Regions from separate parts of the Homo sapiens genome. Here region 2 is linked to region 1. Evidence: fine-mapped expression QTL. A gene starts in region 1. The other region holds a variant in brackets. All regions are shown on one strand. Distances are from middle to middle. Region 1 holds the start of TRMT9B (tRNA methyltransferase 9B (putative)). Region 2 overlaps TRMT9B (tRNA methyltransferase 9B (putative)).

Evidence for each region.
Region 2: its variant is fine-mapped to the expression of TRMT9B in thyroid (GTEx, PIP 0.99).

Annotation. Positions count from the first base shown.
Region 1 is chr8:12,935,907-12,951,565 of GRCh38, reverse strand. It overlaps TRMT9B (tRNA methyltransferase 9B (putative)), which reads right to left and starts at 5,893. Exons shown (of 5, transcript NM_020844.3): 1 at 5,600-5,893. RefSeq lists a silencer at 1-27 and enhancers at 199-699, 9,137-9,676.
Region 2 is chr8:12,987,010-13,002,668 of GRCh38, reverse strand. It overlaps TRMT9B (tRNA methyltransferase 9B (putative)), which reads right to left. Exons shown (of 5, transcript NM_020844.3): 2 at 11,638-11,835. It overlaps LOC124901889 (a long non-coding RNA gene), which reads left to right. Exons shown (of 6, transcript XR_007060829.1): 5 at 14,740-14,912. Among named protein-coding and RNA genes, the nearest start is that of TRMT9B, 49 kb to the right of the region's middle. The variant T/C (reference allele first, on the strand shown) is at 8,873.

The DNA of each region.
Region 1 (15,659 bases):
ATCGCCCCGCCCGAACGTGCCCGGGAAGTGAGGCTGGGCCGCGCCCGCCCCGCCGGGGACGGGGTGACCTTCCGGCCTCCAGCCGTGCCCTTGTTGCCTGCCTCTCTCGGCGTGGCCCTTCCTGCGTAGGAGAAGACGCCCCGGCGGGAGCACCTGGTCGGCCCGCAGCGCATCAGCGCAGTACCTTGGGTGACGACGACGCTTGGCTTTAGCGCGGCTCTTCTCACTTAATTTTTTACAGCCCCGGACTTCAGCGGAAATGCCCCCTCGGGGTCGGTTCATTGGGATAACTGGAGATGGGGGGGTTAAGTAGGGTGCCACGGCTTAGACGCTCCAAATCATTCCACTACACAACATGCCTAATCTGCTGAGTTTTGCAAAACGAGCCCCATCAAAAAAGCATCCATCAGAAGGCGGGGTGGAACTTAGAAGTTTTTGCCCAAAACTGGACACAAACCTTTCCTCCCCCCATTGCTTCTATGACAATAGCGTTAACTACTTTCTTCCAGGTCCCTAACGTAATAGTATCTTCAACCGCCTATTATCAAACAACTCCGTTATCATCAGGGATCTATGCACTTTAAAAATGCACGTTCTTAGTGACGAAAAATGAGCACATTTAGTAACCGCTCTGCCGCCCTTTGTATAGAGGTTCGTGCTCCTGATCCCCAGCGTAGGGGGCAGAGTTCATGTCGAGCTGTTGTTTCCAGTTCAGGTTATTTATGGGGACCCAACTACAGGTCTCACATAGACGCTGGTCTATAACAGGTTATTTGTGAGGACACAACTACAGGTCTCACATAGACGCTGGTCTATTTCAGGTGCTACTAAGAGGGCTAATGGACGTCAGCATATAGTTTCTGATTCTGGAATCGTTTTCTAGTGCCACAGTATATTGGGTGGGGTGGAGTGGGGGAAACCTTTGTTTGGGCTTCTCTTTATCCTCATGCCCTGGATAATCAGACTGACATTTTCTTTTTCTGTAAAGGCCTCACATTCAAAAAGAAAGAAAGAAAGAAAGAAAGAAAAAACCACGAGTCTGGTTTTACGTATTCTTGAGCTGAATGCCAGCTACAGAAATGCAGCAGCTCATCCTTGCTTCCATTCACTGGAGCTACAACTACAATATGTCTTCGGACACAGAAGACGTATTGGATACTGTGATGTTCCTTGTCCTCTTCTAACAGTGCATTAGGAGACAAAGCATACCTAAAGTATAGGATAGTGCCTGGCAAATAGTAGGACCTGATAAATACTCGTCCAGTGATTGAAAGACTGTGATAAACAGGAAAGTAACCTACCTTAACTTTTGTAGGAAAACATAAGGGAAATCAGTTATAGGTGACATTGTCAGGGAAGGCATCCTGGAAGTGGTGTCCAATGTCTGATTTAGATATAAAAAATTGGCTAAGGACTAGGTGAGGTGGCTCATGCCTGTTATTCCAGCAGTTTGGGAGGCTGAGGTGGGAGGATCGCTTGAGGCCAGGAGTTTGAGACCAGCTTGGGCAACATAGTGAAACCTCATTTCTGAAAGAAATACAAAACATTAGCTGGGCGTGGTGGTGCATGCCTATGATCCCAGCCATTCAGGAGGTTGAGGCAGGAGGGTCACTTGAGCCCAGAAGCTTGAAGTTGCAGTGAGCTGTGCTTGCACCACTGCATTCCAGCCTGGGTGACAGAGAACCTATCTCAAAATAAGTAAATAAATAAATAGAATTAACTAGGGAGTGGAAGTGAGAAAGTATATTTGATATGCTTTCAAGACATAATAGAGGCAGAGATTCTTAACCTTTTGTAGGTAATAGGCCCCTATGAAAATGTTGATAGAAGCTTTGAAACCCCCTTATATAATAAACAAATGTAAAATATTTGCATTTGTTTTCTGAAAGTTCACTGACGGCTTGAAGCAGACATGTAGAATCCCTAGAGACTTGTGAACTATGACATGAGTTACCAACTTCTTTCTTGTTTGGAGGCAGGTAGAAAAATAAAGAGATTTTTCTAGTTGAGGCCATCATAAGCGGCATTTCAGTGACCACCAGTAGAATTTGGGTAATGGTTGTGGGAAAGGAAAGAAAAATGTACTGTAAAGAAAATTTGTACACCAGAGAAACATAGCTAGACTTTTAAGCCATTTATGTTATTTTTGTACCAGAGAATTTCACTTTCACATCTCAGCAAAAAGGAGGAAAGGATAAAAAATGACTGTCAAAATATTGACAGTTGCTGATGCTGGGTGTACACATGGGGGTTTATTGCATTATTTTCTCATTATTTGTGAGGTTTAACGTTTTTCAGTTTTTTAAAATTTCAGTGGATTTTTACTCTCGGTAGTCATAACCAATCCTATGGCATTTCCTAACTTGAGTTCTTAGAATGGAGATTTTTGTATATAAAAAAAGAAAGAAAGAAAAGAAAAAGAAAACAATACAAACAGGCCAGTGATGCCACACATAAGATTGTTATTAATAAGTAGAGTCTATGTAGAAACAATACGTTTTCTCTGAGGAAGAATTATAAAGTGTGTTGGCCATAGTCTCAACAGAAATTAGACAACTATGAAACGTTGAACACGTGTTTTTCTGGTTTTTTGTTTGTTTGTTTTTGAAACGGAGTCTTGCCCTGTCACCCAGGCTGGAGTGCAGTGGTGCGATCTCGGCTCACTGCAAGCTCCGCCTCCCAGGTTCACGCCATTCTCCTGCCTCAGCCTCCCAAGTAGCGGGGACTACAGGCGCCTGCCACCATGCCCGGCTAAGTTTTTGTATTTTTAGTAGAGATGAGGTTTCACCGTGTTAGCCAGAATGGTCTCGATCTCCTGACCTCGTGATCCACCCGCCTTGGCCTCCCAAAGTGCTGGGATTACAGGCATGAGCCACCGTGCCTGGCCTTCTGTTTTTTTCTAATGTTACACTTAACTTCACTGTGTGTTGCTTAGTTAACTAAGTTTCTTTATCATTACATTTTATTATTATATCATGCATATAATTTATATACTTATATATTATATATTCATATGCAATGTAAATATATATGCAATATGAATATATATTCACATGTATTATATATTTTAATATATTTATATAATATAAATTATTGTATTATGTGTTATATACATACATATATTTATATATAACAGAATATATTATATATATTATATATACAGATGTTCCTTGAATTACGATGGTTCATTTACAATTTTTCAACTTTATGATGATTTGAAAGCAATGCATATTCACAAGAAGTTATACTTCTAGTACTCATACAACCATTGTCTTTCATTTTTACTACAGGATTCAATAAATTACATGAGATATTCAACACTTTATTATAAAATAGGCTTTGTCTTAGATGGTTTTGCCCAATTGCAGGTTAATGTAAGTGTTCTGAGCACATTTTAAGGCTAAGCTAAACCAAGCTATCATGTTCAGTAGGTTAGGTGTGTTAAATGCATTTTACAACACTTTCCATTTACAATGGGTTTATTAGGATGTAACCCCCATCGTAAGTCAAGGAGCAACAGTACTATATAATATTATTATGACCTTTCTCAGTTAACTCAGTTTCTTTATTAGTCAACTCCCTGGGTCTGGCACACACCTCTTAAGGCTACAGATGGCCGGCCATGATTCCTTGAATGCCTGCCTTACTCACTGCCTGTTTCTGAGCAAGGCAGCCCCAATGCTTCCTTATACATAGGCTGCACACTTTCCAAATGTGACCAATTCAATCAACCAAAGGAGCTATCTAGCATGTCCTGTGGACTACAAGGCTGTTGCCTAGCAAAGCATGAAATTTCTCCAGCTTATGTAATAAATACTGCACACCTGAAGTCTCTTAAGTTATGGCATTTAAGTAAGGAATTCACGTAAGTTCTTTTCCTAAAGCTTTTGACCATTATTTTACTTATCCTCATTGGCTATCACAGTCCTTAGCACTTAGAACTCAATGCACATATTTGCATTAATATGCATGTGTTGCCATAAGCCTCAAAATGTGCTGCATGATGCTTATGTCACCATTTCATTCACTTCAGCCTTGACCATCTATTTTATTCAAGGACGTGGTCTAAGGTACTGGCTCTTAGCCATTGAGGGTGCTTACCTATTATTAGCTTAATGGAGACTTACCAAAAAAATTACTGTATTTTTACCCACTTTTCTCCACCTTTCCAAGTCATCCCATATTTTTTTAGTGGTTTTAGCTAGTTTAGCATGATAACATCTTGATGCATAAGGAAGTGGAATCATCACCAGGCTGAATGGTAGACCCGGGTGAGCTTAACTTCAGATTGCAGGAAGAAATTGTGAGGTGTGTTCCAGTCTCTCAGACTGATCTTTAGGAGACTGGAGACAAAATATTCCAACAACAGGGATAGGCAAAGCTCAAGCTTTATGGCCTCATTGGTTTTAAAGGATTCCCCACAGTGACCCAGTCAGAATGGACTGAGAATCAAAGAGCTCACAGCTGTTTATTAGTCAGCACAATTTAGAGACAGACATGCTAACCAAGAGCTGTCTTTGTCATTTTGGGATGTTCACGGGCTGGAGTCCCAGTAGCCATCTCCTAAATCCTAAACCCTTCAGTTCTTCAGCCATTTTGCTGCTAGAAAGTGTGTAGCTGCTGCCTTTATCCAAGGAACTGATATCTTCCACACCTCTGAAACCTGGAAGACCTTCTCAAGGTACATAGGGAACTTCCTGGCATTGGGAATAGGATGGTTTCTTCTCTTATAGGGTTTTATGCACCAAAAAGAGAAATGCCACTTCTTCTCTTTCTTCCTGAACTTTTAAAAAAGTAGTCCTGCCAAGTCTCATCATTTCTCAAGCACCTGTCCTTGGTCCTCTGCTTTTCTCTCTATATAATCTCCCTAGACAACCTCATCCACCTTTCTAACTGCAAGGAAAAACGCTGTGTAGATTTCTCAAAATTCTGTTTCTCTGAATTGGTCTTCTCATAAACCTGCAGATCCCATGCTCTCATCTTGCTTGACATCTCCACCAGGGTGACATCAACACATTCGAACCTGAGGTCCTTCGCCCTCCGTGCACCTAAAGCAGCTGCCCTTTTCTTTCTTCTACAATCTCCGTCCTCCCAGTCACCTGGCACATTCTTAGACTCTGCTTCTTCTTGCCCTTCATAGCCCATGGGTGACCACCGTCTGACAATTTTGTATCTGTACTGCTTTTATTTATCAACTCTGCTCCCTTCTTATTGTTTCTATTCTAGTTCTTTATGTCCCATTACTTCCCACCTAGATGATTACACTAATTGCTTAATCTGCTCTTCTGATTGCCAAGGCCGTCTCTTCCATAAAAGATAATTCCAGACAAAAAGCTATTGTCTAGATTAATCTTTCTGTCCTAAGAATGTATCAGTTCTTGATCTAGATGCTTCTTACATTTATCACTAACCTTTGTATAAAGTATTATTTTATTCAACAAAGATTCATTGCTGAGCAGTCTGTGAGAAAAGCAATGGGGAGCAAAACAGATAAGATATCTACCCTCATGGCACTTATAGTCTCGTGGGATGACAAACATTAATCAACTAATCACAAATATCACAACTAAAATGTGCAACCCCAAATTGCAACACATACCTTGAAGGAAGACTGCAGAGTTGCTAGGAGAGCTCACAGGTTTCATCACTTTCCCAGAGGGAGGACTGTGTAGGATTCAGCCTTAGATCCTGAAAGTCTAGTCCAGAGCCCTGCACATGGAAGTACTGAATAAGTTGAAGGAACATATGCATCAAGAAAAAAAATTCAAAACAAACTAACAAAAAACACAAAAAATGAAAAAAGAATAAAACAAAGAAAAAAAGCCAAAAGAACATGTGCATCTACTTCTGACATATACATGTGTGATCTTTTCTGTACTACACAATACTGAATAAAACACACACCGGATGTTCCCTCAAATACTGACCTCAACACATAGCCACGTTAGCTGTTTGCTTTTGTTTCCATGACCACATGTCCATGGGGCATCTAATCTCTAAATACACCCTATTTTCTTTGCCAGCATGACAACATGTAGAAACTTGTTATCCTGGTAGCATTACCAAGAATAATTGTTGCTTTATGGTGAAAGTTTTTAGGCATGCTTTAATACTTTGCTGTTATCACCAACACAAACCCATCATCCCTCTTCCCTACAGTTTGGAATGTTTGCTGAAGATGTCAAACAACATTGTTTCTTTTGCCCCTTGGGAAACTGGTTCATCCTCCAGCTGTCCTTTGTGTCATTCGCCAGCTTCCTCTCCATTTCCAAAGCTGTTTGAGTATTACCTCTTCATCCTCATGCTCTTACCTTTTGTCTGTCACTCTTTCATCATTCTGCTATTATGATCACGTAATTTTTGGAGTCAGCTTTTCGCTGGAACACTGAGTGACACATATCACTTGGCTTATTTTATCTCTTTTTTTTTCTTTTTACAATACTATTAGATAATTTGTTTCAAGAAGCACTTTTGTGCATAGAATCTCAGGTCTGATTTGGGTGTGTGTGTTGTTTGTTTCCAGCTTTGAATGAACAAGGACTGGAAAAGATGAGCTTATTTGTCATGGTAGGAAAAGAAAAACTGCAAAAAAATACAATAAATTTCACCAACAGAGAATGTGTTATATAAATAAGGGAGCAACTACATGTTAAAAAATGCAGAGCCATGATCCTGAAGACAATTTAATGACCTGGAGATACAATGCAGTGTTAAATAAAAAGCAGTTTCACCCCAATATTTTAACATTATATAGTATATTTACATATATGTAGGGGAAAATGCTGGACAACCATACAAAAATGTGACTAGTGATTTTCTCTAGGTGATGGAATTTTATTTTCATATATATATATATATATATATATATACTTTTTTTTTTGAGAGAGGCAGACTTGCTCTGTCCCTCAGGCTGGAGTGCAGTGGTGCAATCTCAGCTCACTGTAATCTCTGACTCCCAGGTTCGAGTGATTCTCCTTCCTCAGCCTCCCAAGTAGCTGGAATTACAGGCGCGTGCCACCAGGCCTGGTTAATTTTTTTGTATTTTTAGTAGAGACAGGGTTTCACCATGTTGGTCAGGCTGGTTTCAAACTCCTGACCTCAGGTGATCCACCCACTTTGGCCCCCCAAAGCGCTGGGATTACAGGCATGAGCCACCACACCTGGCCTCTTCTATATATTTTTTAAAGGGAAGGGGATTCTATGCAGTTTGCGAGCAAAGCATATCCCTATTTATAGCCACAACTCTTGTCTCATAAATTTTATTGCTATTTCATCACTGCTCTTACCAATGAAATATGTGAGGAGCAGTACCAACATAGTACTCTTTCGTTCTCTTTATTATTATTTTAAATTCTCAAGTGCAAAAGTACGAGAAAGTCCAATTGTTTCAAGTGTAGAAGTCACAATGACCTCATCATTCTCACCGTAAAAAGCTATTTTATGTCTATGTCAAAAATAAATTACCTATTGTATTTACATCCTGTTTTTTAGGTGAAGGCAAATGTTGGCTCCCTGGCTAAGTGTCTTGATGAGATCTACCTATTAGTAATGGTAATCTTGGGTTTGTATGACAGTCAGCTCTAGGAAAAATGGAGAAATAGGGTCACTCTGTGTGTGTGTGTGTGTGTGTGTGTGTGCATTATGTGCACTTGTGCACTCACCTGTGCTCGTGTCATCCCTAGAGATTTGATTCTGGGGAAAACAAAGGGTGAATTTTGAGATAGTTGGTTTTTATTTTTCTCTGGAGATATATTTTGAACTTTTTGGGGGATACAAGTTTTGAGATATTTTCAAATAAATTAATACTTAAGATTAGATCCTAATGTATGTTACTAGAAGTTAACGCATTGTAAAATAGTTTCAGAAAGCTGTGCCATAAGAAAATTTTGTTCGAAAACTATTTGCAATTGTCAAAGCACAGCTCTTATCTTCTGAGAGCAAGCAAGACAATACTAATCTTCTTCAGCCTTCCTCTCAGAGTTCAAATAACCCGAGTTCTGTGACACTGATCTTAATCAAGACCTCTGGGCCTTAAATTACTTATCTAAAAAGAGAGAGCATTGAGTCAGATAATCACTGAGATCACCCACGATTCTTAAAAGAAAATGCATTTTTGCTTAGATCTGGAGTGAAAATCATTCCATTGTAAAAAGCTATTTTATGTCTATGTCAAAAATAAATTACCTATTGTATTTACATTCTGTTTGTTAGGTGAAGGCAAATGTTGGCTCCCTGGCTAAGTGTCTTGATTATATCTACCTATTCGTAATGGTAATCTTGGGTTTGTGTGAAAGTCAGCTCTAGGAAAAATGGAGAAATAGGGTCACTCTGTGTGTGTGTGTGTGTGTGTGCATTGTGTGTACTTGTGCACTCACCTGTGCTCATGTCATCCCTAGAGATTTGTAGAGTTGTAAAATAAAGAAGGAATTTGGTGCTTTCTTTATTGCATCCATTTATGATCTAAAGGTTCAGTAGGAAAATTTCCCATTTTCCAAGCTGCATTTCAAAAGGCTGGGTATGGAGTTAATAGTTGGTAGAAGCTTCTATTTAATTCATCCGAAAAATTTAGGAAGAACTTGTGAGATGGAAGAGGAAGGAGACTTATTCTGAGATGCTCCAGAGGGCAGACTTGGACCAGTGAATGCAAGTTACGGGGAAGAACATTTAGACTCAACTAGAGGAAGAGATTTCTAAAGTTTGAACTGCATAAAAGCAGAGCTTTTGCAAGAGGCACAACTCTTTGTCTCTGGATCGGCAGAGGAAGAGGGCAGCTCGTTTACTGGTGATGTTTGTAGAGGGTACCCATACATCAGACAGGAAGTCGTGTCAGACACCTCAATGTCCCCTCCTGGGCTGGGGTTCTTTGATGTGATATGACAATGTACTTTGGCAAATGGCAGAATACACAGTCTTTTCAGGTGTTTGGACAAAGAATGAGCCTAGTATTTTCACAACACAGGCTTTGCAGCTCTTATTTCTCTTTCCTGCTCCGATGGTGTCACCTTCTGTACTGGTGATGAAACTGGTTATGTTTGGAATAGGAGTCAAGTCAAGGTATAAATAACGCGAGAAAGAGATGGCAAAGATTGGTTTCATCCAATTTATTTGAAGGATCCAGCTGAGACCAGAACAGGGAATCCGCCTTGGAGACCATGAAAAAATGTTTTCATGGATAATCCAGGAAAATGGCGTCCTAGTTTCGGCATAAGACTGCACATACCTGTTGAACTGGAATTTGTACTTTCTTCTTCCCATTTAATGTGAAAGAAGAAAAGGAAACAGAATAAGCAAATGAGAAAGAAAAGAAACTTTATCCGAGGAATGCAAGCCTCCTGTAAATGATCAGGCCCAGAGAGGCAAGGGAATGAGGCAGCAGTCAGGCCCCACTTCTCCCCTGGAGCTAAGCTAATCATCTCTTGAATCTGCTTGCTCTAGACTGACTGTCGCCACAAGTAGCTGTAAATTAACCTAACAATGCCATGCACTGGACACCATAACTAATATCCTATAGTTCAAAAATATATAGCTAATTACTAATCATTGTCATTTCTGTTAACCAATGGGAATTCCTGACAACTTGTCTGCCTTGTTGCCTTTAAAAACCTGCTTGTAAGAAAGGTTGAATGAAGCTCATATCCAAAGTTACTTGGGTCTGAGTCTTTCAGGCAGCTGTCCTCATCTTGGCTCAAGTAAACGCTTTAAAATTATATTTTGTGCCTTAGCTTCTTCCATGAGGTTGCCACAAATAACAATTATCAGTAGAAAGATGACTAGAAGCATTTTAAAAATCCAACTGAGCAGTCAAAACAGGCACTAAAGGTCAGAGAAGTTATTTTTTTCTTGTAGTTTGTCTAAAAGAAAAATAAATTACCATCAGGAAACAAAAACAACAAAACGGGAGAAAATGCCATTCGCAGGAGAAGATTGCAGGTGAAATAGCACAGAGGTTGAAGTCACTGCTCAGGGCCAGACGGGTGGGAAGTTTCCTTGGCTCGTCCTTTATTTATTTATTTATTTATTTATTTATTTATTTATTTATTTATTTTTAAATTATACTTTTAAGTTCTAGGGTACATGTGCGCAACGTGCAGGTTTGTTACATATGTATCCATGTGCCATCTTGCTGTGCTGCACCCATTAACTCGTCATTTACATTAGGTATATCTCCTAATGCTATCCCTCCCCACTCCCCCAACCCCACGACAGGCCCCAGTGTGTGATGTTCCCCTTCCTGTGTCCACGTGTTCTCATTGTTCAATTCCCACCTATGAGTGAGAACATGCAGTGTTTGGTTTTCTGTCCTTGCGATAGTTTGCTCAGAATGATGGTTTCCAGCTTCATCCATGTCCCTAGAAAGGACATGAACTCATCGTTTTTTTATGGCTGCATAGTATTCCATGGTGTATATATGCCACATTTTCTTAATCCAGTCTATCATTGTTGGACATTTCGGTTGGTTCCAAGTGTTTGCTATTGTGAATAGTGCCGCGATAAATATACGTGTTCATGTGTCTTTAAAGCGACATGATTTATAATCCTTTTGGTATATACCCAGTAATGGGATGGCTGGGTCACATGGTATTTCTAGTTCTAGATCTTTGAGGAATCACCACACTGTCTTCCACAATGGTTGAACTAGTTTACAGTCCCACCAACAGTGTAAAAGTGTTCCTATTTCTCCACATCCTCTCCAGCATCTATTGTTTCCTGACGTTTTAATGATAGCCATTCTAACTGGTGTGAGATGGTATCTCACTGTGGTTTTGATTTGCATTTCTCCGATGGCCCATCACTTTCTTAATTGCAGGAGAGAATTCATCCATGATTTTGGACAGTGGCTCTTTTCTTTCCCCACAGCAAAGCTTTTCTACATTTACTATTCAGGACGTATACAGGCAACTGTAAGGTAACATAGGTCACTTCTCTCAATTCTATCTGATTACAAATCGGATCAGCATAACCTGGAGCACACAATTTAAGAAAAATGTCAAGCACAATTTTCCTATATTCAAACTTAATACATGTTAAAAGAAAATTTTGTTTACACAAAGTTTAACTTGTAATTTTGTAATCAAGATTCAAGAAATGTTCATGCACACTGTTTAGCCAAAAAAAAAAAAAAAAAAAAAAGGCAGGCAGGCACAGAGGCTCACACCTGTAATCCCAGCACTTCGGGAGGCCGAGGTGGGGCAGATCACTTGAGCCCAGGAGTTCAAGACCAGCCTGGGCAACATAGTGAAACTCTGCCTCTACCAAAACACACACACACACACACACACACACACACACACGTACACACAAAATTAGGCTGGTGTGGTCGTGTGTCTGTAGTTCCAGCTGCTCAGGAGGCTGAGGCAGGAGGATTGCTTGAGCCTAGGAGGTCGAAGCTGCAGTGAGCCATGATCATACCACTGCACTTCAGCCTGGGAAACAGAGGGAGACCCTGTCTCAAAAAAAGAAGACGAAAATCCTGCCATTTGTGACAACATGGATGAACCTGGAGGGTATTGTGTTCAGTGAAATAAGCCAGGTACAGAAAGACAAAAAACATGTGATCTCACTCATATGTGGAATCTAAAAAAGGAATTTAATCTAAATTCCTTTTGTTGCAATTTGGTGGTGGGGATATAGGTCAAAGAACACAAAATGTCAGATAGGAAGAATGCCTTCAAGAGATCTATGGTAAATATGATGACCATAGTTAATAACATCTTGTATTGTTGCAAAATGCTAAGTTAGTGCATGTTAAGTGCTCTCACCACAAAAATGATAGCTACGTGAGATAATGCATATGTTAATTAGCTAGATTTAGTCATTCTACTCTATATATACTACAGACAATTTTATCTGTCAATTAAAAAATGTTTAAAGAAATGTTCATGCAAAAGAGAAAGCTATTTAAAATGGAAACAAAAATGAACACTTTTTCTCAAGATTGCAATTTATACCTAAATGTACAAAGCCAAATAAATGTATGCACTCTGTATACCTTAGCTTCAGCTTTAAAGAAACTCTGCAATGGTTTGGGGTTCTAGAGTTTGATATCTCCAATTGTCATGTTTAAATGTCAGTAAAATTTAACAATAGAAATTATTTGGAATTATTCCAATATGTATTCATTCAGGATCCAGGAAATATTAGACAAAAAAGGGGAAAAAAATGAGGATTTGAAAAGGTATGTTATGTTTTTACTATTGACTAAGAAAAAAACTAGAAACAAACAAACAAAACACCTATTTGCTTCTCAGCAGATGAATTTTTAACGTTGCTGGCCAATTATTCTAAGGCAAGAGCAAAGTCAAGAGTTTCCTCAGGGTGGCCTTGTCTTTAGGAGAAAATAACAGATGGAATCACATCATGTTAATAAAGCAGTTATGTATGCATACAAAGTTTAAGGGATGTAAGGGATTTTCGAAATAATACGATGCAAATAAAAGAAACAAATGTTTACCCCTAAACTTCTGAAGATTCAGAATTGTATGACCCGGAATATAAAAACATCCATAATTGTACCACCTACAAACATCATTGTTAATATTTTGGTGCATTTCTTTTCTGTCTGTCTGTGTCAGTCAAAGTTGGGATTACATTGTATTCATTTTTACTTTAAATTGCATTTTTTGTGCAACATATCGTGTTGTTAAATAATCTACAAAACATTGATTTTTAACACTCTCATAATCTTTCATTTAAAAAGTATTTATAATGTGCCCTGTGGTGGACGAAATACAATGGAGCTTTAACTCATGTAATCCTCAGGAGATCCTGAGGAAGCATTAGTGTTATTATTGTTATGATCCCTATTGTTTCACAAATGGGGGAAACCGAGGTTAAGGGAGGTTAAGGAACTTGCCCCAAGCCAACAAAAAGCTGGGCTGTGACTTGAAATGATTTGCATCTAACTCTAATGCCAATATTCTTAATGATTATGGTAAACTTTCTCTATGTGAGAAATGTAAATGATTCAAATGAAATGTCAAAATCTTTTTTTTTTAACTTGTCAAGAGATCAAGTAACTTTTTTCAGGTGTACTGACTAAATCGCCATGACAGCTATGTGAATTGTATCTTTCCTTAGAGAGTAAATAATACTGTCTGTTTATCAAGGTCTTCAGTTTTCATTTGCACTTGTCTGATTTTTTAAAGGCCAATATATTTTGTCTATGCTTGGAGAATACGATAAGCCTACCTTAAAACTATGTAATGAAATCCAAATAACAATATATTTTGCTTCTTTTTCAGAATAGCATTATATGAATCATAAATTAAAATCATATAAAGTGTTGCTTTGTATATTGTCATTTACCATATGCCATATTATATTGTAATTCTCTCACTCTGTGTGTCCTCTCCCTTGTCTAAATTGTAAGCACCTTCAGTAATTATATCATTTATTGCATTTTCAGAGTCGAGTGCATCTTGTAAAATAGTTATTCAATATTTGCTTCCATCCAGCTACTTGGGTGGCTGAGGTGGGAAGATCTCTTGAAGTCAGGAGTTTGAGGCTATACTGTGCTATGATTGTGCCTGTCAATCGCCATTGCACTCCAGCCTGGGCAACATATCAAGATCCTGTCTCTTAAAAAAAAAAGAAAATTAAAAAAAAGTTGTTTGCAACGTACATAATGTTGTTCATGTTTCATGTATCAGTAACTAAATACAAATTACTTAAACACTAAACAATAGTCCTCTTAAATAAATTGGTCTTTATAGATAATATTGTCTCTGTGGCAGAGATAACGTTAAGTGATCAACAAACTAGGCTCAGTTACCTCTTGGGCACGCAGGAGACTACATAGCCCAGTCTCCTTTGTGTTTAAGTGGGACCACATCCATGTGACTTAGTTCTGGCCAATAGAATGTGGACAGAAATGATGCATGGCAAGTTCTAGTGCTCACTCTGTACAGCCTCCTCTATGTCATGATCTCTCTTTCTTGCTCTTTCATTCTCTGTCTCTCTTTGTCTGCTGAATACAGGTAGAATTAGTAAGGAAGAGAGACCCAAGAGATTCATGAATCTCCATGTAGAAGATCACAGTCTGAATTCTAAATGTGACTGTGATGTGAGCTATTGAGATTTAGGGGTTGTTAGTGATAGCCTCTAGCATCCTATTGTGTTTATCATGTATTGAGTTTCAGTTCTGCCTCAGGTACATACCAACACACCCTCTACTATCACATTCTCTTCCTTTCCCTCATACTGTTCTCTCAACCTGACATTTCCTCTTTCCATATTTTTATCTATTAAAACTGTACTTATGACAGAGTTCAAATGCCCCTTACATAAAGCTTTGTTTCATATCACAGGCAAAATAATCTTGCTCCACTGTAACCCATCACAGAATTTTCTTCCCTTATTCCACATCCATAGTCGAGTGCTGGTCACCATCATATCCCTAATGCCCAATGGTTGGCATTTACAATATTTATCCAACAAATGAATGAATTGGTGCATTTCATTTCTCTCACAGGTTTGATACATTCCCTGTGTGTAGGATCATGTCTCATTCATCTTTATACTTCCCAGTGACAAGCACAGAACTTGGAACATAGTAGATACTCAAAAAATGTTTGTGGAATTGCTAAAGTATTATTAATGATGATTGAGAGAGGTGCATTTTTTAAATATAAATGTTCACAGTTTTATAATTCTTCAAGTATTTAATAACTTTCACAGCGGGAAAATTTGTCATTAAATTTAATCTAAATTCCTTTTGTTGCAATTTCAAGTTTTTAATGATTTTTGTTACCTTCAGTCACAGCACTTCTGAGTAGGAAGAGGCTCAGTTCTCAGAAGTTATTTCTGTCTTGACTGATATATTTACAGAAGGGGTGGTAATGATTCAACTGCTCTAAATCAATACTGCTGAATTATTTCAGGAAAGACAGGGTTTTTGGACACTTATCCCTCCGTATATTCTTTTTCCCTTATGGTTTCTATAATTAGTCACAAATCTATGCTTGTATGAAGGTGAAAAATTGAATATCATTATTTAGGGAGAAGTGAGGGAGATGGCAATTGGTGACGCCTACTCTATTGCTGAAGGCTCAGTAAGTAGTACTATAAATAGAAAACAAACTAGGCCAGGCACAGTGGCTCATGCTTGTAATCCCAGCACTTTGGGAGCCAAAGAAAGAGGATCACTTGAGCCAAGAGTTTCAATCCAGCCTGGGCAACATAGTGAAACCCTGCTTCTACCAAAAAATTTAAAAATTAGCTGGGGTGGTGGCCTGTGCTTGTAGCCCCAGCTACTCAGGAGGCTGAGGTGGGAGGATCACTTTAGCCCAGGAGTTCGAGGTTGCTGTGAGGTATGACAGCACCACTGCATTCCAGCCTAGTGACAGAGTAAAACCTGGTCTCAAAAATGAAATAAATAAAATATTTATTTCCCAATTATAAAATCAAGAAATGTATATCATATGAGCAAAATGGTAAAAATTGCATGGAATTAATTATCAAGGATTTGTAATTATCCAAAGTATAAACACAAGCTTCTGATTTCAGAAAATACATCTAAGCATTGAAAAAGCCCACCATGGTTGTTATTGCACTGAAATGGCCTCCAGCCATACCCTGAAATGCAAAAATATATGTTTATTGCTAACTATTATAAAGCCAGCAAAATAAGATTTTATAGTTTAACTGTACAGCTAATACCC
Region 2 (15,659 bases), 51 kb before region 1:
TTCCATCATTCCTTCCGTTTCAAGGAACAGATATTCAGGATTTACTCTTAAAACGTAATAGGTTGTCTTTAATCAGTATGAACCTACCCACAGCCCCTGCAAAAAATCCTAGCAAACTCCTAACTGAGTATAAATCTAATTTGTGAGGTCTGACTAAACTTCCACCCAAATTGAAACAGCTTATGTTGCACCTTCAACTGAAATTTACGAAGTAAACATATGGCTGGCTATAACTGCCCACACAAGAGAAAAACAGAAACACTGTGTGCTTTTCATTTAAATCAAAATCTCAGTAGATTTTAGTCTATTTACGTTTCCCCTTTCTCAAGGAATCAATCAAGCAATACGTTTTAGAGAACACTAGAACAAGCAAGTTTTTCTTTGTTGCACTTGGAAATGTTAAGTGGTAACCGACATAAACTGGGTTCCTTGCAAATTGCAATTTAAAAATGACTTCAATTTCAAGCTCAGAATTTGTAGTATCTGAACAGCACCCCCAAGATCTTCCCCTAAGTTTTCTATGGCCTCTACTACCATCGGGTAACCTAAAAGATAGTTATTTTTAAGTGTATAAGTAATATAAATCTATTTTGTTTTTCTGATATTTTACAGTTAACTTTATAAACACTGCAGATTTAAATTTTAAATGCTGCGGATTTAAATTTCCTATAATAGTTTCCACATGAATTTTATTTATATAAGCAAATTCCTTGTGAGTTTGAAAGTGTGACTAAGCTAATAAGACTAGTACTAAAACAAGAGCACGGGTTTCCAGATGAAGCGAGAGATAAAGGGTTTGGATTAGCCAGGATTCCTAATCTGTGTGCTGTCAAATTCCAGACCCATAAAATAATCCACATAAAAAGTCAGTACTTAAAGCCTCACATTGTGTCCCTCCTTTGAGATTCAAAATGCACACCAGCACACTATGAGTTTTGAAAAATCTTGGAGAAAAGAGTCCCGGTTGATGTTTCAAAAATCTCGCTTTTTTCTCAGAATTATTGGGTCTATAATACTCTTTCTGTCTTTAAACACCTCTTGTCTTTTTAGGAAATAATATTCTGTAGAAGACACTGTGGAAATGTTAATTTAGTGTTTTCCAATTTAAGAATGTCCCCAAAACAAAGCATTTTTCCTGATCATCCTTTTTCATTCATGTAGTTTTAGTGAAGTATGTTATCTACAAATCATAACTTCTAAGATGGTTTATAAAAAGACTAAAAGTATGAGACGGTAAACGTTTTAACTAGGAAGTCAGAAGGATGCGCATCAGAGTTGCTCATCACTGTCGATCCAAGAGAACCTGCTTCTGAGCCTTGTGCCTCCTCTTTCCAGGGATCCCCGCCTCACTGAGTGGACCCAGGTTGAAAACCAGATCTACAGGGAACCAGTCCATGGGTGAGACTGACCCAGTCTTGAGAATTTGAACTAAAAGACCTGAATAGTCAGATGACCACAAGTGGTTGGTTGTGATCACTTGGAGTCTGTGTTAGGGAGTCCATTTTTAGCCATGCACATATGGATGAAGCAAAAGAATATTTTTCTGCAAAATAAATGTAGCTGTAGGGAAAGAAAAACAAGATGAGAATCCGTGATGCTTCATAACATGGTGGGGGGAAAGGCAGAAAGATTGGGGAAGTCTAGTAGATGATATTCTAGTTCTAGTCCCTATGTAGGCTCTAGATAGGGGCTCAGGGTCACTCATCTCCAAGAAACCTGTTCATTTTACAGTACCAGCCTTGCGTCCTGAGGTACTTCATTTCCTAACCTTGAATCTCAAATCCATACCCTGTTCTAGCCCTGAAATATTCTTCACTTGAACTCACTTCTGTTTCTTACAACCACACCTTTCCCAAGGCAGGGAAACTGCTTTTTTAATTAACATTTTGAAATGATTATTTTACACTTTAAATAACTAGCGTGCAAGGATGCTGACACATAGTGTTGTAATATCTTACCTTTATTGCTACTTTTCAAGCAACTTGTAAAGCTTACGAGGTAACCTTAAAACAAACCCCCAAAATTGAATGCTAGCAATCAAAAGAAATCGTAAATGTGATGACAAAAACATAAATGAGACTGAGTAGACAAAGATACAACTAACTTTGCTGGGGGAAGTTGATGTAGGCACAGAAGAGGAGATCCCAGACATTGAATCATCTTTGTTCCTTCCCTTGCCCCACAAACTCTGCCTATTTCCAGCATTTATTTCTTGGAGGATGGAAGAGAGGACAGAAAGTGACAGAAAACTAACAGGAGAGTTAGTGGCCTGGCATGTTTCCAAAGGGTAGAAAAACAAAGAGAAGGACATTGGCAATTCCTGCTACTAGCAACAGGGTTCTACTGAGAAGTCACAAATGTTTAGTTTTCCTTCCCTGGACATGTGATTAGGCTAACATTTTTCTACCTACTTGAATTCAGATAAACCCTAAGTGACTTGCTATGGCATAAACGTCATCTGAAAAGATCAGGATTACCCCACTGTGTTGCTTTCCAAGTTCCCTATCCCTTATCACTGCAATGAAATGTTCCTTGTCCTGGAGGCATCAGCCTGGGTCCCTCAGAACTCTTGATGGAGAGATATCATGGGTATTCTAATCCCACCCACCAAAAGGAATAAAAAGCTCAGTTCATCATATGAACTGTAGAATATCTAGATCATGAAAAAGTGAAAAGTATACATCAGTTTTTATTAGATGACAACTTGTTACCATATAAGTTCCCCCTTTTTTCTTCATAAAGATTAAAAGTTTTCTTTCTCGTAGAGATATATTATAATAAAATTGAGAGAAAACCGGACAGTTTTGCATCCTACTTTTTTGAACTTAATATTGTGAGCCTAGTGGCAACTTCTACCTACAGTCTTCTCCACCTTCTCAAAGAAATATAACCTCTACACTCCCTAATTCCACAGCACTTGAAATATGTCATGTGCTGTAAAGTATTATAATGGCTTAAGTATTTCTACTAGATTCTGAACTTCTAAATAAGAAACAAGATTTCATACACATCTTTGGTTAGCCCATAATATCTAGCACTGGCCCTAAATGTAATAGGTCTAAATACGTTTAGTGAATTCATGAATGATGGAACTCTAGCCAATTCAACAATATTTCTTTTAAATTTTTAAATCATATTTTAACAGTTTTATTTAGGTATAATTGACATATAACAAACTGCATATATTTAAAGTATATAATTTGATGTTTTTACATACATATGTGTGTGCGTATGCGTGTATGTATGTGTGAAACCATCAAGACACTCAAGATAATGACCATATCCTTCCCCCAATAAATCACCCCTCCCATCTTCTCCCACCCTGAACAATCTTTCTTTTTTTTTTTCTTTTCTTTTTTTTTTTTTTTTTGAGATGGAGTCTCCCTCTGTCACCCAGGCTGGAGTGCGATGGCATGATCTTGGCTCACTGCAACCTCCGCCTCCCAGGTTCAAGCGATTCTCCTGCCTCAGCCTCCTGAGTACCTGGAATTATAGGCACGTACCACCATGCCTGGCTAATTTTTGTATTTTTACTAGAGACGGGGTTTCACCCTGTTGGTTAGGCTGGTCTTGAACATCTGACCTCATGATCCACCTGCCTTGGCCTACCAAAGTGCTAGGATTACAGGCGTGAGCCACTGCGCCCAGCCCCTGAACAATCTTTCTTAATGCCATGTTTCTGGGTAAAGAAACAGGGATAGAGAGGTGGACATTAACATATATATCCAACAGCCACAATTTCAAAGGCAACTCTGAGTATTTGATGTGTTGACAAATAAAAGTAAAAAGGTTTTTTCCCAAGTTTTTCCAGCTTCTTAATGATCACTGGAAAGCTATGCACATATTCACACCCAGAGGCAAATAGTAAAAATATTCTGAGGAACTGAAAAGGCTTCCAGGGAAAAGGTTTTTCTACTGTCTCATCAAGGAGATGACACTCTGTACTTGACCCACAGAAATCTAGTGAACTCTGAGAAAGAAGGCTTTGTTTTGTCCCCAAGAGTGGCTCCTTGTCACCAGGGAGGAGGTGCTATAACTAAATGTCCTCAAGACGGTGCTTTTTATACCTGCTCCTCCTAAGAAGTTAGCACAGAGGCCAGGGTAATAGGCTGTAAGCACTTAGCCCTGTCATCAGAAGGGATTTCTCATTTGTTTGTGATGGGAACTTCTATTACCTCTATCTTGAGTTTCTTTCTGTACCACACTTTTGCCTGTAGTGAGTCCTCTATGTTTTAGCTCTATGGAAAACACACGTGGCTTTAGAACAGTTCTGTCTCCAAATACTGACATACATTTATGAATTAAAACCTCTTTCTATCATACAGAACAATAAAGCTTTTAGAGGAAAATACAGAACATCCTCATGACCTTGGAGTAAGTTAAAATTTCTTACAAAGGGTCATATAAAGTGCTAACCATAAGAGGAAAAATAAAGTAGACTATATTAAAATGAAGACACCATGAAGAGAAGGAAAATTCAACCCAGAGTGTGAAGAAGTATTCGTAGTACATACAGATGACAATTGAGTAGTATCCAGAATATAAACAATTCTTACAAATCACAGAGTAATAGAAGACAACACAATTGAAAAATGGGCGAGAGACTTTAACAGACACTTCATAATGGTCAGGAGACGGGCAGGAAACACACACAAAGGGGCTTAACTTCACTAGTATCAGGGAACCGCAAATTTAAGCCACAATAGGATCCCACCACCTATACAAAAGAATGGGTAAAATGGAAAACACAAAGAATATCTAGTGTTGGTGAAAACATGGAATCGGTGAGTTCTAATACACCACTGGAAGAAATGTGAATTGTTTCAATCTGTTTGGAAAACCGCCTGACAGCAACAACTAAAGCTACACATATGCATAGCCTATGGCCCAGCAACCCCACTCTTAAAAGTATATACATATATCCGAAAGAAATGGACACCCATATTCACCAAAAGACATATGCTAGAATATCCAAAGAAGCACTCTTCGAAGTAGCACAAATCTGGAAACTGCACATGTGACCATCATCAGTAAAATGATCAAATAAATTGTGGTATATTCATAGAATGAAATGCTACCAGGGTAGCATGGAAGTTTGCAACCATATGCAACAATATGGATCAGTCCCTATATTAGTCCATTTCGTGTTGCTGTAAAGGAACTCCTGAGCCTGGGTAATTTATAAGGACAAGCAGTTTGTTTGGTTCATGGTTCTACAGGCTGTACAAGCATGGCACCAGCATCTGCTTGGATCCTGGTGAGGCCTCAGGAAGCTGTTACTCATGGTGGAAGGTGACTGAGGAGCACGTGTGTCACAAGGTCAGAGAGGGAGCAAGAGAGAGGGGAGGAGATGCCAGGCTCCTTTAAACAACCAGCTCTCATGTGAACTGATAGAGCAAGAAGTCACCCATTACCATAAGGAGGATGCCAAGCCATTCCTGAGGGATCCACCACCATAACCCGAACACATCCCAATAGTCCCCACCTCCAACATTGGGGGTCACATTTTAACATGAGATTTGGAGGGGACAAACATCCAAATGATATACATTCCACAAATATCATATTAAAAGGGAAGTCCACAAAAGAATACACACTGTTGGATTCCGTTTATGGAAAGTACAAAAACATGAGCCCATAGATAGATCAAAGAAAATAAAAAATAAAATAAAATAAAATAAAATAAAATAAAATAAAATAAAATAAAATAAAATAAAATAAAATAAAATAAAGAAGGTACAAAAACAGATAAAACAAATGTGGGCCATTAGAAGTGGGATAGAGGCTGCCTGGGGTAGCAGCTGGCAGGGAGCACTGGGGGTTGGGAGGTGGTCCTGGGGTGCTGATAATGTTCTGTTTCTTGATCTGGGCTCGGGTTACATGAGGGCGCTCAGGTTATGAAAAATTCATTCATTTATTTGTACATTTATGATATATGCACTTTGGTCCATGTATATTTCAATTAAAACCCCCTTTTGCTTTGAGGCAGTTGCCTTGTTATGTACTTTAAACCATGTTAGAACTTAAAACTGAGCAGAGTATCCTCTCTCATCTGTGTTCTGCCATTCCCATGAGGGATGAATGCCATCCAGTCAGTGCCTTCTGGGCAGCTAGAAATTGGAGATCACTGGGTTCAAAGATCAGGTGAAATGTCAAAGCAGTATCCCCATTCAATAAGATTATGTCATAGTATATACAGAAAGTGCTGAGAGAGTTTTGCCTCAGAAGAAATCTAACTGAAGAAATAAGTAACTTAAATGAGATAATGTCTAATGCCAGATTATCCAGTAACCAGCCAAGAATAGAGTCCATTTGCTCCCAGTAAAGAAGTTGTTTCAGTTAGGGCACCAGGTAAGTGACTCATCAGTATGATGAGAGGAAGGAAATTCATTTTACCTACCTTATATTTGTGATCTTATTACACATTGAATAGCTTTACTCAATAACTCAAAGTGAAATTAAGGATGAATTGTGCCAGCCACAGCTTCCAAGTAGCACAACTATAATAATGTATGAGGATTACTGATCTCAATAAATAGATGGGAACATAAATTGTGTAAAGGTCCAGGAAGGAGGCTACATGATCCTCAGCTTGTAGCAGCAGGTGGTTGCTATTGCTGCTTACCTTCATTCTCTAATTATCTTGCTGTTTCATGGTTACTGTTACTCGTTAAGACAATTTTCAGTTATTTCAGTACCTTATGAAAAATGTATGGACAAACTAGTGTCCTCATTTATTACTCTCATGTGGATCATCTGTGATATTTAGTCTACTGTTTATGTGGCTCTTTATATGTGCAGTTATTGGAAAAATCTGCTGAGCTTTTTAGTCTGCAGAGAATAAAATCTTTCTGAAAAATGTTATAATATTTAAAAGCCTTAGAACCTAAGACAACAATGACTTGGGTCTAATTGGTATCTGGATGGTTAATCTCCCGAAACACACACAACTAATAGATGAATCAGTGTTCCCTCCCAAAAAACCAAACCCAAAACAAAAACAACACAAAGAAGACAAACATGTGTATCAGTAAAGTTTTCTTTATAAAAATCAAGAAAAGGATCAAGACAGAATGACAAGGAAAAGAAGAAAGAAACCAGGGGAAGTGCAAGGAGAAGAAACGGGCAATTAATATATGTATTGAGTGATTATCATGCGGTTCATATATGTTAGTGCAAAGAAAGCCAGAAATGGAGAATAAGGAAAGCAGACAAAGAGCTAAGAGCTATGACTTAATATGTATAAAGAACAGAGAGAAGAAAAGGTAAAAAATATATAACTTTGTATAAATTTGTTTATATCTACTCCAATTAGCACTCAAACTAGATTTATATAATCAAATATCAATTGCTCATTTAACTTTTTACACATTTATCACTAATGGAAATTACATTTTGACTGCTTCTAACTGCAGCTGAAACTTGCTTGAAGCTTTGTGTTAAGAAACTAAAACCCAAAATAATGCCAAAGGTTAACAATTCTTGCTCTAGAAAGTCTAGAGTTGTATTGTGTTGCAGTTTATTATGTTCATTTCCACAGTATTAGGAAATTATTAAAAAGGGAAATTTTCAGTGAGCCCTCTGTGTGTGTAAACTGACACATCTTCAAACGAATGCATGAGAAGTCGGGAGCTGCGCCTTGGAACTCAGCCTGGAAGCGTAGGCAAGATTTGAAAATGTTCTTTTCAGCCAGGCGCGGGGGCTCACGCCTGTAATTCCAGCACTTTGGGAGGCCGAGGCGAGTGGATCACCTGAGGTCGAGAGTTCGAGACCAGCCTGACCAACATGGAGAAACCCCGTCTCTACTAAAAATACAAACATTAGCCGGGCATGGTGGTGCATGCCTATAATCCTAGGTACTCAGGAGGCTGAGGCAGGAGAATTGCTTGAACCCGAAAGGCGGAGGTTGCAGTGAGCTGAGATCGTGCCACTGCACTCCAGCCGGGGCAACAGGAGCGAAACTCCGTCTCAAATAAAAAAAAAGAAAATGTTCGTTTCTTGTCGTTTAAATTGCACTTGCAAGAAGAATCAATTCAAGGGTTCCCCAAAGGTGGACAAGCCACTCTGCTTTTAAGGTCCTCTTAGCCTGCTTTTCAGGGAAAGTAGCAAACTTGAGAATTCCAACATAGCTAAGACGCATAAATTAAGTCACCTCCGGGCACTTGATGTGTTTGAAGAGCTGAGCGCTACCGAAGGGAAGAAAGGAAAGGGAGAAAGAGAAAAGACACTTAATCCATGCAGCTAGAGGCATGCAGGCATGAAGGTATTGCCTAGTCAATACCTTCTAGTCAATATCAGTATCTTCTTAAAAAATAAAAAAGTTTTATTTTTTTCAAAACATTAGTTTGAAAGAGCAGAGGGTCCATCAGAGGTAGCAGTGAAAAGTAATTTTGGAGATCTAAGATTCTGGGGAATACCTGATCCGTTCCCAAGCCTGAGACCATGCACACACATATGACCACTATTTGCAGTCGCAGACGTTTTAGAGATTAAAATACTTTTAAAAGCTTCTGTTTATCCTCTGTTCCTTTGGGGAACTGCACCTCTCTCAGACTCCAAGTGTCACTGGGGCCTGCCAGGCACATTGACTGTGGCAGTGGGGTGGGCACATGATCCAGTCTCGGACAGTTATTCTCCCTCGCCCAGGAAATTGACAAGAGGTTGGAGCAGAACTGCTGATGGCTCAGCCCTGAAGAAAAGATCCTCATGCCTCATCCCAAGTTGTAACTTTCCCGAGGTTTAGTTTGCAGCAGTTCCTTTTATTGTGCCAGCTACTTAGGCACTCCCAACAAATCCTCCTTCTTGCTTTAGTTGATTTTGACATGTATAGCCAAAGGACTAAAGTATTACAAACTTGAATGCTTCTTCACAA[T/C]CACAGCATGTACCCCAGTGGGGGCCACAGTGAAAGAGATGTACCATGGCCACTAGGGTTGCCAACAGGACTCATCACAAATGGATGAAGGGACTCTGACTGGAGCAAAAGAATCTGCTGAGATAGCAATGTGCTATTGGAATGCCAGCCTAGAAGATCAAAGTTGTCACAGTGCTGGCACCTTTGCCCCCTTTCTGTCTTTCTGTTTGTACTGCCATCCCCTAGTATCTCAGCTAGTCTAACTGGTCTGTCTGTTCCTCTTGCTGTCTCTGCACCCCCCACATCTATCCCCTCTAATATATTCATAAAGATGGGAGTTGGCAACACAACCTTCTCTGTTAATGTCCACTTGGCTGGAGACACAATACATTCTTACAGTAAAAGGTAACTGCGTAAACCACATAGCACATGTGCCATTCCTGGTTTGCTGGCTACAATTCATGATTTTCCTTCTATGAATTCAAGGAAAGTTGGTTAGAATCTCTATTTCATGGCAGTGCAGGGTTAATTTTTCTATACAACCTCATTGGATAATATTCACTCCTTCTTGAAAGCCCTTCAGGGGACCTCTGCTGCCTACGGGATAGCACCTGCACTCCTCAGTCTGTCACGAAAACCCTCCCTGACCTGGTCCAGTCCACTTTGCAGTCTTATATCGTGCAACGACAGTACCTCAGACTCTCAGCTGTATCCACACAAATCTACTCACTTTTTCCCGAGAGGGACTTGCTCAGGACCTTATTCAGGTCTTTGCTGAAGCCAGCAGTCTATTCTCTCTCACCGGCAATGCTCTCCTATCACTTCCTCCTGCCAAAATCTACTGGTCTGCAAAGTCTAGCACAGTTTCTTCCTCCTGCATAAAGAATTTATGGGTAACTACAGATAAAAATCATCCATTCCAGGACTTATTTTTAGTTTTTACTTTTTGGAGATGGAGTCTTGCTCTGTCTCCTAGGCTGGAGTGTAGTGGCATGATCTCTGCTCACTGCAACCTCTGCCTCCCAGATTCAAGCAATTCTCCTGCCTCAGCCTCCTGAGTAGCTGGGACCACAAGACCACAGGTGCATGCCGTCACACCTGGCTTTTTTTTTTCTTTTTTTGTATTTTAGTAGAGATGGGTTTTCACCATGTTGCCCAGGCTGGTCTCAAACTCCTGAGCTCAGGTGATCTGCCTAACCCGGCCTCTCAAAATGCTGGGATTGCAAGCATGAGCCACTGTGCCCAGTCAATGATGCTGTTTAAATGAAGTTCTCCTGAGCTTCATGACCATCTAAGTTTGTTGTCCTTCAGATACCACAGAGACAATATGCCCAAGTCTAGAACCTACACCTCCTATCACATTTCCTCTGATGGTGAACCACTGCACTGTCTACCCAGGCCTCCCAAAGAGCTAGAATTACAGGTGTGAGCCACTGTGCCCGGCCCCAGGACTTCTATACACTGCAAATTTATTATCTCTATCACTCTTAGGACATTTTTCCGGATACTGTCATGAACTCTCAACTCTGTATATGTTCCCAAATAGATTATAAGTTTTTGGACGGCAGAGATGGAAATGTGATGTTTTTATATATCTCTATCTATGTCTCATCTGTACATCATAGAGCCTAGGATAGTGCAGAACACAGAGCATCACTCAATAATTAATTGTAGATCCAATGAATCAAGGAGCTGTTTCTTAGCTCCCTCTGCAAAACAACAATACTTTACTCTGTACAAGCTGGTCCTTGACTCTTTGGTTATAAATCCTAAAGAGCCAGCTGTGAGTCAATGGGCACTTGGAGGAAAGCAAGACTGAGCTTTTCCAGTTTTATTTTGTGTTTTCTGATTTGCTGCCCCAGAGGTCTGTTGTTGTTGTTGTTTTTGAGACAGAGTCTTGCTCTTGTTGCCCAGCCTGGAGTGCAGTGGCGCAATCTCGGCTTGCTGCAACCTCCACCTCCTGGGTTCAAGCAATTCTCCTAACCCAGCCTCCCGAGTAGTTGGGATTACAGGCGCCCACCACCACGCCTGGCTAAGTTGTGCATTTTTAGTAGAGACGGGGTCACCATGTTGGCCAGGCTGGTCTTGAACTCCGGACCTCAGGTGATCCACCTGCCTCGGCCTCCCAAAGTGCTGGAATTACAGGCATGAGCCAATGCGCCCAGCCAGGTCTGTATTATAGGTACAATCTAGGCATACGATGGTCACTTTTTCATAACTAAAAAGAAATACAAATATTGGAAATGGCTCTCCTATTATAAATGCCACAGAAGACACAGAATTAAAAAAGAGAGAGCATAAAATTCTGCTTTAAATTTCAAAGACACACTTAAACTACAATTCTAAAGTGAAAATGCAAGTTGGTCCGAACAGTTAAAAGACAACTTACATTATAAAAAAGACCTAATTACAAAATGCATAGCTTTTTCATTTTACTTTTTAATACATGCAACTTCACACTTAACATCTATATATCATTTCCAAGTACAAATGATATTGTAAACTTTTGTGTGATAAAAATCTCATTTAAAAATATGTTTAAGTCCTACAAAAGTATTTTGCTTTCTAAAAATGCTAAATATGTTCTTATAATTTTTACATACCCTGTACAACTACTTTCAAATACTGTTTTCCACCTCATGCAAAAATAAATTCCAACTTACTTTATATCACATTGTCATAAATTTAAAATTATAGGGATTGGGAAGAATTAGGTTCACTAAATATGCACATTGCTAAAAACACCTCATGGTATGTGAGTTGCAGAAGCGCTGAAAGCTACTAACCTGAGTCATCCTGTGATTACAGGAAAATTACCTCTTGTCTTTGTGAATCACGGCAGTCTCCACCTCCAGAGAGTGACAGTTGCTTCTCATAACTTTCTCAATGTGTAACGTAAATGAAAACTTGTAGGAGTGAAATGAAATAGTGCGGTCCTTCTCATGATAAACCTCTTGTGTGAGTCTCTGAAGGAAGCACAGGCCCTATCAGGAAGAAAACAAATACTAAATGTCATTTCACATGGTATGTATATGGAGCCAGCTACAGCCCAGGCTGACTTCCTGACCTATGCATAAATTACCCAGCCAAGTAGGGATTAGAAAGAATTGTTAATATGTGGAGTGTGCCAGAATTATAAGAGCAGTTCAAATCAATAGGCCAATAAATCAATTCCTAAGCTTTCTATAAAACATACAATACTTTCTCCTAAAATTAAATTGAATGATTTCATCTTGTTCCTGGGAAAATTGCTAACATTGAGAGTCATCTCTGATTCCAGGGGCTTAATTAAATAAATACTACCTAAGACAATATTACTAAATTGTACTAAATCATTCCAGTACAATTGGACTGCTCAATATTTTCCATATTACTAGCTACTTTCTTGTCACTTTGATAAGTACTCGTAGTTATTCATCATTGTTCACATTTTTCTTCTTCATAAGAGTTTGTTATGAAACCCATCAAAAGGCTTTTAGTTATTAAAAAAATAATGCACCAAAAACCACTTTGTAATATAGAGGTCTTGTGATATACAATGAGATCTCGAGAGATGCCTGATATGATAGGAAAAGCCCATCCTATAACACCTTGGACCCTAATTGCTTGTCTGCAAGTGGGGTGAATGGACCATAATCTAAGTCCCAGCCTGCAACCATTTTTCCTAGTTTCCTTATCACTTGTGTGTTCACCACACTGCCACAAACTGTACTTCTTATTACACCCAGTGATTCTCACGATGGCAGGGTGCGTGTGGGTTTTCTACTCAGAGATGCGTGTGCCTTCCCCCAACATTCCCCTACACCAGCCCAACCCTAGTCCTGGCCCCTATTTAAGAATCAATGATCTGGATGTGCTTTGGAAAACTTCTCTCTAGTCTTCAGAACTTGCCTATAGATTTTAACCCCAGCTACATCTCACTCATATGTAGGCACATGATCTGTGCCATTGAGAGCCACAGAAGCTAACTTTTTAGAAGTGCGTTTAAGAAGCATTTTGAAAGAGCTACCAAAGCATCTTATCTTTCCTCATGCAATTTTAGAGCCTACCTTAATTATAAGAGAGATGATGTTTGCTAACTGAGTCCCTATGACAGGGTAAAGCTAAAGATTCTCTGTTCGGACTTACCCTGCCAGGCTCTGACCTGGGCAGTCGACTGTCATCAGACAATGTGGTTGTCTATGCGCCTTTCCTTCAGGCATTTGTGCCTAAATGTGTTAGACCCCTCAGATAAGCCACCAAAGGCAAAGTCTTCAACGCCCCCATCAGTAAGAGTACCAATGAGAAGAGGAATTGTAGCTAGTGTAGAAGTAGGAGGCATATGTGTGCTACCTGGGCAGGAGGCTTGTCTATACGCCCAAATCAGGCACCCAAAACACCTACAAATATGACTGATTTTGCTTCTTTTTCCTAAATTAGGATCCAAATTTGCCTCTGTCTAAAGTGCATGAATCATATCACCTTCTCCAAGAAGTTACTGGGCAAAGATAGAATGGGGTCGTATATATCTAAAAGGAGTTGAATTCCAATTGAGACTTTTTATTAAATCAGTCATATTTAGTATTGAAAGAAACACATTTCTTCTTCTCTTCTCTTTGACTAAACAGGAGGCCATCTTCTAGGGCAAGGTCTGTACCTTAAACCTTCTGAAATAAGCCATGCGTGTATTTTCCTGGGAAGAGGGTCAGCACCACAAACCATGGCTCAGGGGCAAAGCCAGATTTTTGAAAAAAAAAAAATTTCTGTATTAAATTAAAAATACACATTCATCTTTTCAACAAATATTAACTGAATCTCTGGCAGATGTAAGGCACTAGGGATACAGATAAAAGAGCTCTCACCCCATTCAGGACCCCAGAATTTAATATCTGAAGCATACAAATAAACAGAAAATTAAAGTGCAGTAGAACTTTACTTCTGGGATGGATACATCCTGAGCTAATGTGATTCCCCAAACTCATGCCTTGCCTTATTTAATACCAAGAATCAAGATTATTTGATATAATCATCTAAAAAATAATAGAATTGATATGGTTTGGCTGTGTCCCCACCCAAATCTCATCTTGAATTGTAGTTCCCATCATCCCCATGTATTGTGGGAGGGAACTGGTGGGAGGTAATTGAATCATAGGGGTGGTTACCCTCATGCTGTTCTCATGATAGTGAGTGAGTTCTCAAGAGATCTGATGGTTTTATAAGGGAATTTTTTCCCTTTTGCTTGGCACTTCTCCTTGCTGCCGCCATGTGAAGAAGGATATGTTTGCTTCCCCTTCCACTCATGATTGTAAGTTTCCTGAGGCCTCCCCAGCCATGCTGAACTGTGAGTCAATTAAACCTCTTTCCTTTATAAATTACACAGTCTCGGGTATGTCTTTATTAGTAGCCTGAGAATGGACTAATACTGTAATCATATATTCATACAATCATTATAAAATAATCATTTTGTGTTATTGCAAATTATTAATTATCATGGATCTAAACAGTGTTCAAAATCACAATGTCAATACCCCTTATCTGGTGTGAAGAATGTTATGATGTGGGTGTGCGCCGGTGCTACAGGAGCACATAGGCGACTGATCCAGCCTGGAGTGGGAAGGGGGAGTGAAGGCTCCCTCAAGGGGCTGACACCTAAACGGAAGTTCAAAAGATGAGTGGGGTCAGCCAGGTGAAAAGGAGAAGTGGGTGATTCCAGGCATATGAAACAGCATATGCAAAAAGAAAGACACAAAGCCAATAAATGAATAACAACAGCAATAACAGCAACACACGCACAGAAATATATACAGATGGTCCCAGACTTATGAAGGTTTGACTTTATGATGGTGTCAAAGTGATATACATTCAGTAATAATTGTGCTTTGAATTTTGAATTGTGATCTTTTTTCCAGGCTAATGACATGCGGTGGGATCCTCTCTCACAATGCTGGGAAGCCACAGAGAGCCACATCTCCCAGTTGGCACACCATCATGAATGTAGACAACTGAGATTTGACAGTGTTCCTTTTTGCCAGGTGATTTTGCCCAGCTGTCGGCTAATGTAAATGTTCTGAGCACGTTTAAGGTAGGCTAGGGAGGTAAGCTATGATGTTCTGTAGGTTAGTTGTATTAAATGCATTTTTTTTTTTGAGACAGGGTATTCATTCTGTTGCCCAGGCTGGAGTGCAGTGGCACCATCGTAGCTCACTGCAGCCTTGACCTCCCAGGTGCAAATGATCCTCCTGCTTCAGCCCCTCCCAAGTATCTGGGACTATAGGCGTGTACCACCATATCCTGCTAATTTTGTGATTTTTGTAGAAATGGGGTCTCCCTACGTTCCCCAGGCTGGTCTCAAACTCCTGGGCTCAAACAGTCCTCCTGCCTTGGCCTCCTGAAATGCTGGGATTACAGAAGTCAGCCACTGCACCAGGCCTAAGTGCATTTTTGACTTATAATATTTTCAACTTATAATGGGTTTATTGGGATGTAACCCCATCATAAGTGGAGAAGTGTCTGTATTAATTATTTGCTATGGGCCAGGCCGTGTTGTAAGCATTTAACACATTGACTCTTCCCAATAACTATATAATATAGGAACTACTAGTTCTCCCATTTTACAGATAAGAAGGAGGACCTAAGTGACTTTCCCAAAGTTACATAGCTAGTAAGTGGCAGAGCCAGGATTTGAACCCAGATAATTTGACCCTAGCGTTCGCACTCTTAACTATACAGATGGCGAGGAGAAAGGGAGGCAAGGAAGCAAATGGCGAAATAAGAGGCTGGAAGAGAGGGCAGGAGTCAGATCATATAGGACCTAGTCCAGCTTCTGAAC